Regions from separate parts of the Homo sapiens genome. Here region 1 is linked to region 2. The links come from fine-mapping of genetic effects on gene expression. A gene starts in region 2. The other region holds a variant in brackets. All regions are shown on one strand. Distances are from middle to middle.

Region 1 (4,384 bases), 23 kb after region 2:
AGTCCCCCCAGCAGGTCATGGGCTCTTTGGTGAAGGATTATTTCGCCAGACAGCAGGTAAGCTGACCTCTCTGGAGGGCAGGAAGGGCAGGTGAGGGAGGACCATGGCACAGGGGCCCAGGAAGGGGAGGTTCCCCATCTGTCCAGCGTGGTCACGGCCCCCCAGGTGAGCAAAAAGGAAGCTGTGGCTTCAGGAAACATCAGCAGTGCTGTTTCTCACCAACGCCCGTCTCTATTCCTCCCTTCCTCTTACAACCTTTTTCTTTCTTCTTAACCTTTTCTGTGGCATCTGGTGGTTTTCCTGGGCCCATTCGGGGTAGAGTAGAAATGCTGCCCACCCTGCTGAGAATGAGGCCCCGGACCTTGCCCAGAGATGCTGCCTGCCTGCTGTTGGGATGCCTCACCCAAGGAGGCCTAAAGTGGCCTGTGCCTGGAGGCTGAGGGCAGCTGTCATTTAGGGAGCCAAACCTGGCCTCTGCCCTGGCCTTTCCCTCAGACCACGGGCATCACATGACTTCCTTAGCCACTTCTGTGAGATTCCACAGTGGCCATGATGCTGTCCTCCTCTTGATGGAGTGAGTCCCGGCCTGAGGCTCCTGCGTGCCCCCTGCCTCGGCCCGTCGTGTTCTCCCTTCCCACAACCCTCTGCGGCCCCCAGGTCCTCCCAGAACTCCCTGATGTCTCCAAGGCCACCCTCAAAGGGACCCTAATCCCATGGTTTATTCTCCAGCCGCTGGCATGCCCCACACTGCTCTTCTCAATCAGACTTTACACCTCCCTCCGGGGAAGCAGCCATGTCCAGGCACTGTGGTAACTGGAGTAGAGGGTAACATCAGGATCTTTCAGACATTTGAAGTCAGCCTAAAAAGGCACGCACATTTGGCAGCCTTGTTATTTTAGCAATAGGCAGTGTTTTCCTTCTATCTAGTTTCTTTCTACCCATAAAGTCATAATTTGGCAAATTATAAACATGATGTCAGAGTATACACGTTCAGTTTAGGCAGGACCGAAAAATGAGCTATGGGACTTTCTGTCCCTTGCCCTGCCCCCACCTGAAGAGAGCCATGTGTTTCTAGGTCTTCCACGTGCTGCCCTCTCCCCTGGATGGAGCCCAGAGCTATGTGTCCTCCTGTAGGTGCCATGAGGGGCAGCCGCAGAGACCCGGCCTCCAGCAGCCTCTCACCTGACCACCTGGCACAGCTGCAACCAGGGGCGGGTTTCCTCTTTTGCTCCGCCCCTGCCCTGAGTGGGTCCTTTCCACCCAGACCTCACCACAGGGTCACTTGGCAACTGCTGGCTCCTGGCTTTGCCACCAGTTCAGGCCCAGCCACAGGCACCTGCTCTGTGTGGACCCAGGAGAGGGGTAGCTTGGGTGGGCATCGCTTGGGAAGATTCAGGAAAGTCTGTGGGTGAAGTAGCCAGCGCGCGCACACACACACACACACACACACTCACTCAGGCCTCCTGCAATGGCTCCATGCTGGACCAGCAACAGCTCCACGCCGGCTGGACTTCCTCTTACTTGTTTTGTCCCCATGTGCACAGGTTCAGGAGGAAATGGGCTCAGCCTTCCCGGTTCTTCCAGGAGGCTCCACTGGCTGGGGGGCTTTGCAGATGTTTGGGAGGACCACACCCAGTCCTGAGGGAGGCAGCAGACAGACATGGATGGAGTGCTGGTGCTCGGTAGAGTTGAAGAGGGGATGGGAGCCAGATGTGGCTACAGCACTTTCATCTGTGGGGCCCGGCCTCAGACCCACAACAGTCCCAGCCCCAAGAAAGTGCTGCATGCAGCCAGGCTCGATGGCTCACGCCTGTAATTCTAGTACTTTGGAGGCCGAGGCGGGCAGATTGCCTGAGCTCAGGAGTTTGAGACCAGCCTGGGCAACACGGTGAAACCCCATCTCTACTAAAGTACAAAAAATTAGCCAGGCGTGGCGGCATGCGCCTGTAGTCCCAGCTACTCGGGAGGCTGAGGCAGGAGAATCGCTTGAACCCGGGAGGCAGAGTTTGCAGTGAGCTGAGATCACGCCACTGCACTCCAACCTGGTGACAGAGCAAGACTCCATTTCAAAAAAAAAAAAAAAAAAAGAGTGCAGCATGCAGTGTCTGGAGGGCAGCAGCAGGGGGCATTCGGTCTCCCATCCCTCTTGTTCTGGGCACCAAGCGTAAGCTGCCGTCACCTCTTCACCAGCCCTAAATATGGGTGCCCCTCTCCCACAGAACCTGTCTCCAGAGAAGATTTTCCACGTCATTGTGGCCCCTTGTTATGACAAGAAGCTGGAGGCTCTTCAGGAAAGCCTTCCCCCTGCTTTGCATGGCTCCCGGGGCGCTGACTGCGTGTTAACATCAGGTGAGAGGTGGGCGGGGGTGCACCTGGGCGCTGGGGTAATCTCCTACTGGCCAGTACACACCAGAGCCAGGCAGATCTGTGTCCCAGAGCCATCTCAGTGCCTGCCAATGTGGTCGCTTGTCTGAAGTTACTGACAGCTGAGGGTCCTAGGGGCTTAACTGCAGGTGAAGAGAAGGGTCATGTTCGATCTAGCCTCCTGTCTCCTCTGTGCATCTTCCTCAAGATAAATCAGGTCTCAGCTGGGCACAGTGGCTCACGCCTGTAATCTAAGCACTGGGAGGCCAAGGCAGGTGGATCACCTGAGGTCAGGAGTTCGAGACCAGCCTGACCAACATGGAGAAACCCCGTCTCTACTAAAACTACAAAAAACTAGCCGGGCATG[G/A]TGGCACATGCCTGTAATCCCAGCTGCTCGGGAGGCTGAGGCAGGAGAATCGCTTGAACCCGGGAGGCAGAGGTTGCAGTAAGCCGAGATCGCGCCATTACCCTCCAGCCTGGGCAACAAGAGTAAAACTTTGTCTCAAAAAAAAAAAAAAAAGATAAATCAGGTCCTGGGAGAACCACTTGGGCAGTGTGGTGGCCCTAACTTTACATTACAGTCCATGTAAGGTACTTATCTCTTGGTGGGAAAGTTGTCTATAGCCATAGCGGGTCTCCTAATCACAAACCAAGTCTGCACTTAAAACACAAGTGAAGTTTTTTTCATTCAGAATAAAATGAAAAAGGCACGTTTGCTCCAGTGATATTGCCTTTACCACGGTATTGGCCACTCCTTTCAGATGTTAAGAGCCTACAGTGAGTTCTGTGTGTGTTGTGGATGGAAGTGATTCCCTGGAATTATGTAGAACCCATTCAGAAGAATGTTGACATCAGTTGGTGGGGGAAGCTTAAGACTTTGTTAAAATTCTGGCGGAACTGTTTTAATTGGTCTCTGAAAACAGGTCCCTGCAGGTATTTAGATCAGTGGTAGATGAGGCAGAGAGGTCAGCTCTCAGGGACAATCTTTAAGGGCGCCAATGTCCCTCACAGGCCCCTGACTTGAAATTCTAGCACGCAGACGCCTCTGGAAAGGTCCCCACCCCATAGGCACAGGCTCCCTGTGGGGTGATGTGGCAGGGGTGTTGAAGGATGAGGGATAGAAGGGTCCTCAGCACGGCCATCCTTCACTCTCAGAGGAAGGGCCCAGGGGCCATCTGCTTACGTTGACAAAATAAAACATGCGCGGTGGGCTGTCAGAAGAACCATGTCCAGCCATCTTTTTTCTGAGTGCAGATTTATAGGAAATTACGCTATTTTCTTACCTGTGTTTCCAGCCATCTCACAGCATCTAATGTGATGCCACAGCCATAGTTTTAGAGGCTCAGTTTTTCTATTAAGGGTTTTTTCAGGCATCCTCATGTAAAAGGAAATACAGAAAGTGGTTCTCACTTTCAGTTGATCTCATTGCAGAATAAACAATTGTCATATAAATGTAGCTGGGTACAATGGCTCAGACCTCTAATTCCAGCCACTCAGGAGGCTATGGCTGGAGGATCACTTGAGCCCAGGAGTTTGAGACCTTGCTGGGCAACACAGTGAGACCTCGTCTCTTTTTTTTTATTTTTTGAGACGGAGTCTCACTCTGTCACCCAGGCTCTGCAGTGGCTCCATCTTGGCTCACTACAACCTCCGCGCCTCCTAGGATCAAGCGATTCTCCTCCCTCAGCCTCCCGAGTAGCTGGGATTACAGGTGCGCCCCACCACACCAGGCTAATTTTTGTGTTTTTAGTAGAGAGGGGGTTTCGCCATGTTGGCTAGACTGGCGACCTTGTTTCTTAAAAAAAAAAGGGCTGGGTGCAGTGGCTGACACGTGTAATCCCAGCACTTCAGGAGGCTGAGGCAGGCTGGTCACCTGAGGTCAGGAGTTCGAGACCAGTCTGGCCAACATGGTGAAACCCCCGTCTCTACTAAAAATACAAAAATTAGCCAGGCGTGGTAGTGCACACCTGTAATCACAGCTACTCAGGAGGCTGCGGCAAGAGAATCACTTGAACCCGGG
Region 2 (4,384 bases):
TAAGCCAAGCTAATTTTAGGAGCTTTGGGAGGAATTTACAGTTTAACCTTGAAACAAGGATGATAATAGTCCCTTCCTAAAACTATCACCTCCCACTTCTGGGGCTGAAATTGCCTTTGTAAAGCTAATGAAAGGCCACAAGGTTAGGATTGTGGGAGTGGCCTGAACTCTGCTAAAATGCAGGCCTAGTTTCTACAGTCCCTCACTGCTCAGGACTCATGTGGCCAGAGGTCACAAAATTTGCAACTTCCCGAATTGCACCTATAGATAATATCAGTATTGCAGGACCTAAGAATGGCTTTTTGAGATGTTTTTCAGAGTGAACCCACCCCAACCTGCTACTCAGGACTCAATTGGTTTCTGTGGCCCCACCCAGAGGCAGACTCAGTGCTTGAGGACCGTTTTCCACACACCCTTTTGATTTCATTCCCAGTCAATCAGCAGCATCCATTCCCTAGCCCCCTGCCCACCAAATTGTCCATAAAAACCCTAACTGCGGCCAGGCGTGGTGGCTCATGCCTGTAATCCCAGCACTTTGGGAGGCCGAGGCAGGCGGATCACAAGGTCAGGAGTTCAAGACCAGCCTGGCCATTATGGTGAAACCCCATCTCTACTAAAAAATACAAAAATTAGCCAGGCGTGGTGGCGTGTGCCTGTCGTCCCAGCTACTTAGGAGGCTGAGGTAGGAGAATCGCTTGAACCTGGGAGGTGGAGGTTGTAGTGAGCCGAGATTGTGCCACTGCACTCCAACCTGGGTGACAGAGTGAGACTCCGTCTCAAAAACAAAAACAAAAAAACAAAAAACAAACTCCTAACTGCTGAGCCTTTGGAGAGACTGATTTGAGTAGTAACTGTCTCCTGTGTGGCCTGCCAGGTGTCAATTAAACTCTTTTCCCGGCCTGCTGCAATCTTGATGAATTGACTTTTTGTCTGTGCAGTGGGCAGGAAGAACCCGATGGGCAATGGCAAGCTGAAGAATGATGAGATTCATAAATCTGGAAAGGAGAGCTTTACTTCTCATAAAGGGTTTCAGCCTGCAGGGTGGCCATTCTGACAGACAGGGAAGCACTGCCTCTGGCCAGAAGCCAGAAACAGACACTTCCAGGGAGGGGCAAAGGGAACAGGAATCTATGAGGTGCAGTGTGTAAATATACATATTTATCAAGCTACAGGAGAAGTCATGAATATTTTTGAAGAGAGAAACATACACAAACACAATGAAGCTTCAGGCCCCTTCACGAGGGTCATGTCATCTCACCAGAACCACTCCATGGTCAGTGTCTCTTATCAGTAAGGAATACTGGTCAATTGGGCCGAAACTGCAAATGAGAGAGTTGTTATCAGCGGTGGAGTCTTTCGAAAGCGCTGGTTTCCGTTAAGCTCTTAGCCAAGAAAACCTAATGGTAGTTAGCCAAGGGTTGGCCTTAATAACAGGTGTCTCACCTCCCATCTGTCATGGCTGAGAACTGCCTTCAAGGCAACCCTGGGATCTCCTTAGCCAGTAGGGGGTTCGTGTAGTCAGTTGGGGGTCTTTGGATTTCATTTTCATTTCTCAGAGGACAGGAAGGAAGGCTCTAACATGGGGAATCCTGAGAACTGCTGCTGTCTGTTAAATACGCCTACAAGTTATTTTTCTTATGTCACACTCTCCCAGACATGTTCTTACTTCTCATTTCTGATTTCTGTAATACACACACACTGATTTCATAAAACGTTTATGAGTCCAACACTTCCATTATAGCCCTGTATCAATGTTTTGCTTAGCTGAAATCAATTTCTTGGAGGAGTAAGTGTTATCTTTACTTTGTAAGCTGTAAGGGCCCAAATCAATGTACTTGGTAAAACTATCCATAGTGAACACACGCAAATGTCAAATGGCCATCATTTAGCATCTGCCCTCGGGCTTCCGGGTCCATCACGTGGTTACTGACAGGCAGGCCGCGCATGCGCGCTGCTACTCCGCCGAGCCTACGTGACACGACGTCAAGTGGCAATGGCGGCGGACGAGGGCTGTGCCCCCGGCCCGCCCCGTTAGGAGCCGCGAGTAAGGCGAGTGTCCAACGCCGAGCTGGCTGACAGAGCCCGGCCGCGGCCTCCGCGGGCCCAGGGGCCTCCAGGCCCCGTGACCACCGGACCGAGCACCCTGGAACGGCCCCAGCTTGGCCTCGGGACAGTCCGCGCGCTCACCGACTCCCTGGTGAACGCCGCTTGGCCGCCGCCGCCGCCGCAGGACCCACGAGAAGCGGAAACCGGCGCAAGGACCCGGTCCCCCCGGCGCCGTACGTGGAGTGAGCCTGCGGTCCGCCCCGCGCGCTCCGATTGGCTCTGGGGCCTGGCCCGCCCCTTCCCGACACTGTCATTGGCCTAGGCAAAGCCGTAAGGGTGGGGAATCCTATTGGCCCAGGGGTGCGGCTTGTCCTCTCCCGGTGCTCTCATTGGCCGAGCGCGGCCGTTGGGGGTGAGGCCGCGTCGGGGGAGGACAACAAAGGGCCGCGGGCGGCGGGCAGTGGTGTCCCAGTCTCCCGGTGCTTCCCTGAGGCTGAGGCGCCCGGCCTCCCGCCCGCCGCGCTCCAGATGAAGTGTGAGCACTGCACGCGCAAGGTGAGCGCCGCGGGCCGGGGAGGCGCGCGCCTGGTGCTTGTCCTGTGGGGCTCTGGGCGGCCGAGGTTGGCGGTCCGGGCCCGCCGCTCGCTCGCTTCAGGGCTCTTCAAGGCGCCCCCGGCCTCGGCACCCTGGGCCCGCTCGGCGTGGAGGCGGCCGGCGCGGGGTCCGCTGCGCTCTGCAGGGCGGGTTCGGTCTTCGCGGTTCTCCCTGAACTTGTCCATCTTTCCCACGCCCGCGAAGCGCGGAAACGCACGGAGACCGAGCCTCTCGTGCCGCGCACCACAGTCCGAGTAAACAGCGGTCGTGGCGGGAATGATCAGAAGCGTTTCGAGAGGGTTTTAGGCGTTTTCGAACCTGCCCCTCTGAGGGTCACCGAGCAGCCGGTGCAGGGGCGGAAGCGGGTGACGGCTGCTGACCGGCGCCTTCCGCGGTTGTCTCCAGGCCATGGCAACAACCGCGCAGCGCACGCAGGGGGGTTTTGTAGCTGTTATTGCCGGAATGGGCTCCTGTGGATGCTGCTCTGTGGCTGGCACTTCTGCGCGTGACGCCGTGGCAGGAGGCTTCCTAACATTCCATGGGTCGTTCATCCCCGGTGGTGGCTGCGTCCTATTCTAAGTACACCTGTGTCCAGGGGAATTCGCCTGTGGGGTGAAGGCTACAGTTGCTTCTGCTTTTTTATTATTGTAAACAATAGAGATGTGTGTGTGTCCTTCAGTACCTGTTTCACTAGAAGGGTTAGAAGGATAGAAGGCCAGGCACGGTGGCTCAAGCCTGTTATCCCAGCACCTTGGGAGGGGAGGCCGAGGCGGGTGGATCACCTGAGGTCAGCAGTTCAAGACCATCGTGGCCAACATGGCGAAACCCAGTCTCTACTAAAAATATAAAATTAGCTGGGTGTGGTGGCGCACACCTGTAATCCCAGCTACTCAGAAGGCCGAGGCAGGAGAATCGCTTGAACCCGGGAGGTGGAGGCTGCAGTGAGCCGAGATTGCGCCCCTGCACTCCAGCCTGGGTGAGAGCGAGACTCCGTCTAAAAAAATAAATAAATAAACTAAAAGAAAGGATAGAAATACATGAGCTTCATTGGTCAGAATGTGCACATTTTCTTAAGGGAGACGAAGTAAAAGTTCATTGATAATGTTCCTTTGCTTTTTTAAGGAATGTAGTAAGAAAACAAAAACTGATGACCAAGAGAATGTGTCAGCCGATGCACCGAGTCCAGCCCAGGAAAATGGAGAGGCAAGTAGATTTTTCAGTTTTGTATCAGCCCAGAGTAAACTACTGCTGCTGTTTTTCTCTTTGGGGGCTCACAGCACCGTGCACATCACTGCTTTAAAGAAGACTGAAGTACGCGGGCATGGTGGCTCACGCCTGGAATCCCAGCACTTTGGGAGGCCGAGGTGGACGGATCACTTGAGGTCAGGAGTTTGAGACCAGCCTGGCCAACATGGTGAAACCTTATCTCTGCTAAAAATACAAAAATTATCCAGGTATGGTGGTGTACGCCTGTAATCCCAGCTACTCAGGAGGCTGAGGCAGGAGAATTGCTTGACCCTGGAAGACAGAGGTTGCAGTGAGCTGAGATTGTACCACTGTACTTCAGCCTGGGCAACAGAGTGAGACTCTGTCCCAAAAAAAAGACTGAAATAGGCCAGGCGTGGTGGCTCATGCCTGTAATCCCAGAACTTTGGGAGGCCGAGGCAGGCGGATCATGAGATCAGGAGATTGAGACTATCCTGGCTAACACAGTGAAACCTCATCTCTACTAAAAATGCAAAAA

What was found. PIP is the estimated chance that this variant, and not a neighbour inherited with it, causes the effect.
Region 1: its variant is fine-mapped to the expression of NARF in whole blood (TOPMed, PIP 0.97).

What each region holds. Positions count from the first base shown.
Region 1 is chr17:82,478,863-82,483,246 of GRCh38, forward strand. It overlaps NARF (nuclear prelamin A recognition factor), which reads left to right. Exons shown (of 11, transcript NM_012336.4): 6 at 1-56; 7 at 2,220-2,349. Among named protein-coding and RNA genes, the nearest start is that of TRX-CAT1-8, 14 kb to the right of the region's middle. The variant G/A (reference allele first, on the strand shown) is at 2,732.
Region 2 is chr17:82,456,230-82,460,613 of GRCh38, forward strand. It overlaps NARF (nuclear prelamin A recognition factor), which reads left to right and starts at 2,512. Exons shown (of 11, transcript NM_012336.4): 1 at 2,512-2,601; 2 at 3,763-3,843. The coding sequence starts at 2,575. It overlaps NARF-AS2 (NARF antisense RNA 2), which reads right to left and starts at 2,290. Exons shown (of 3, transcript NR_184099.1): 1 at 1,444-2,290; 2 at 1,209-1,319. RefSeq lists enhancers at 1,851-2,000, 2,434-3,266 and a silencer at 2,031-2,850.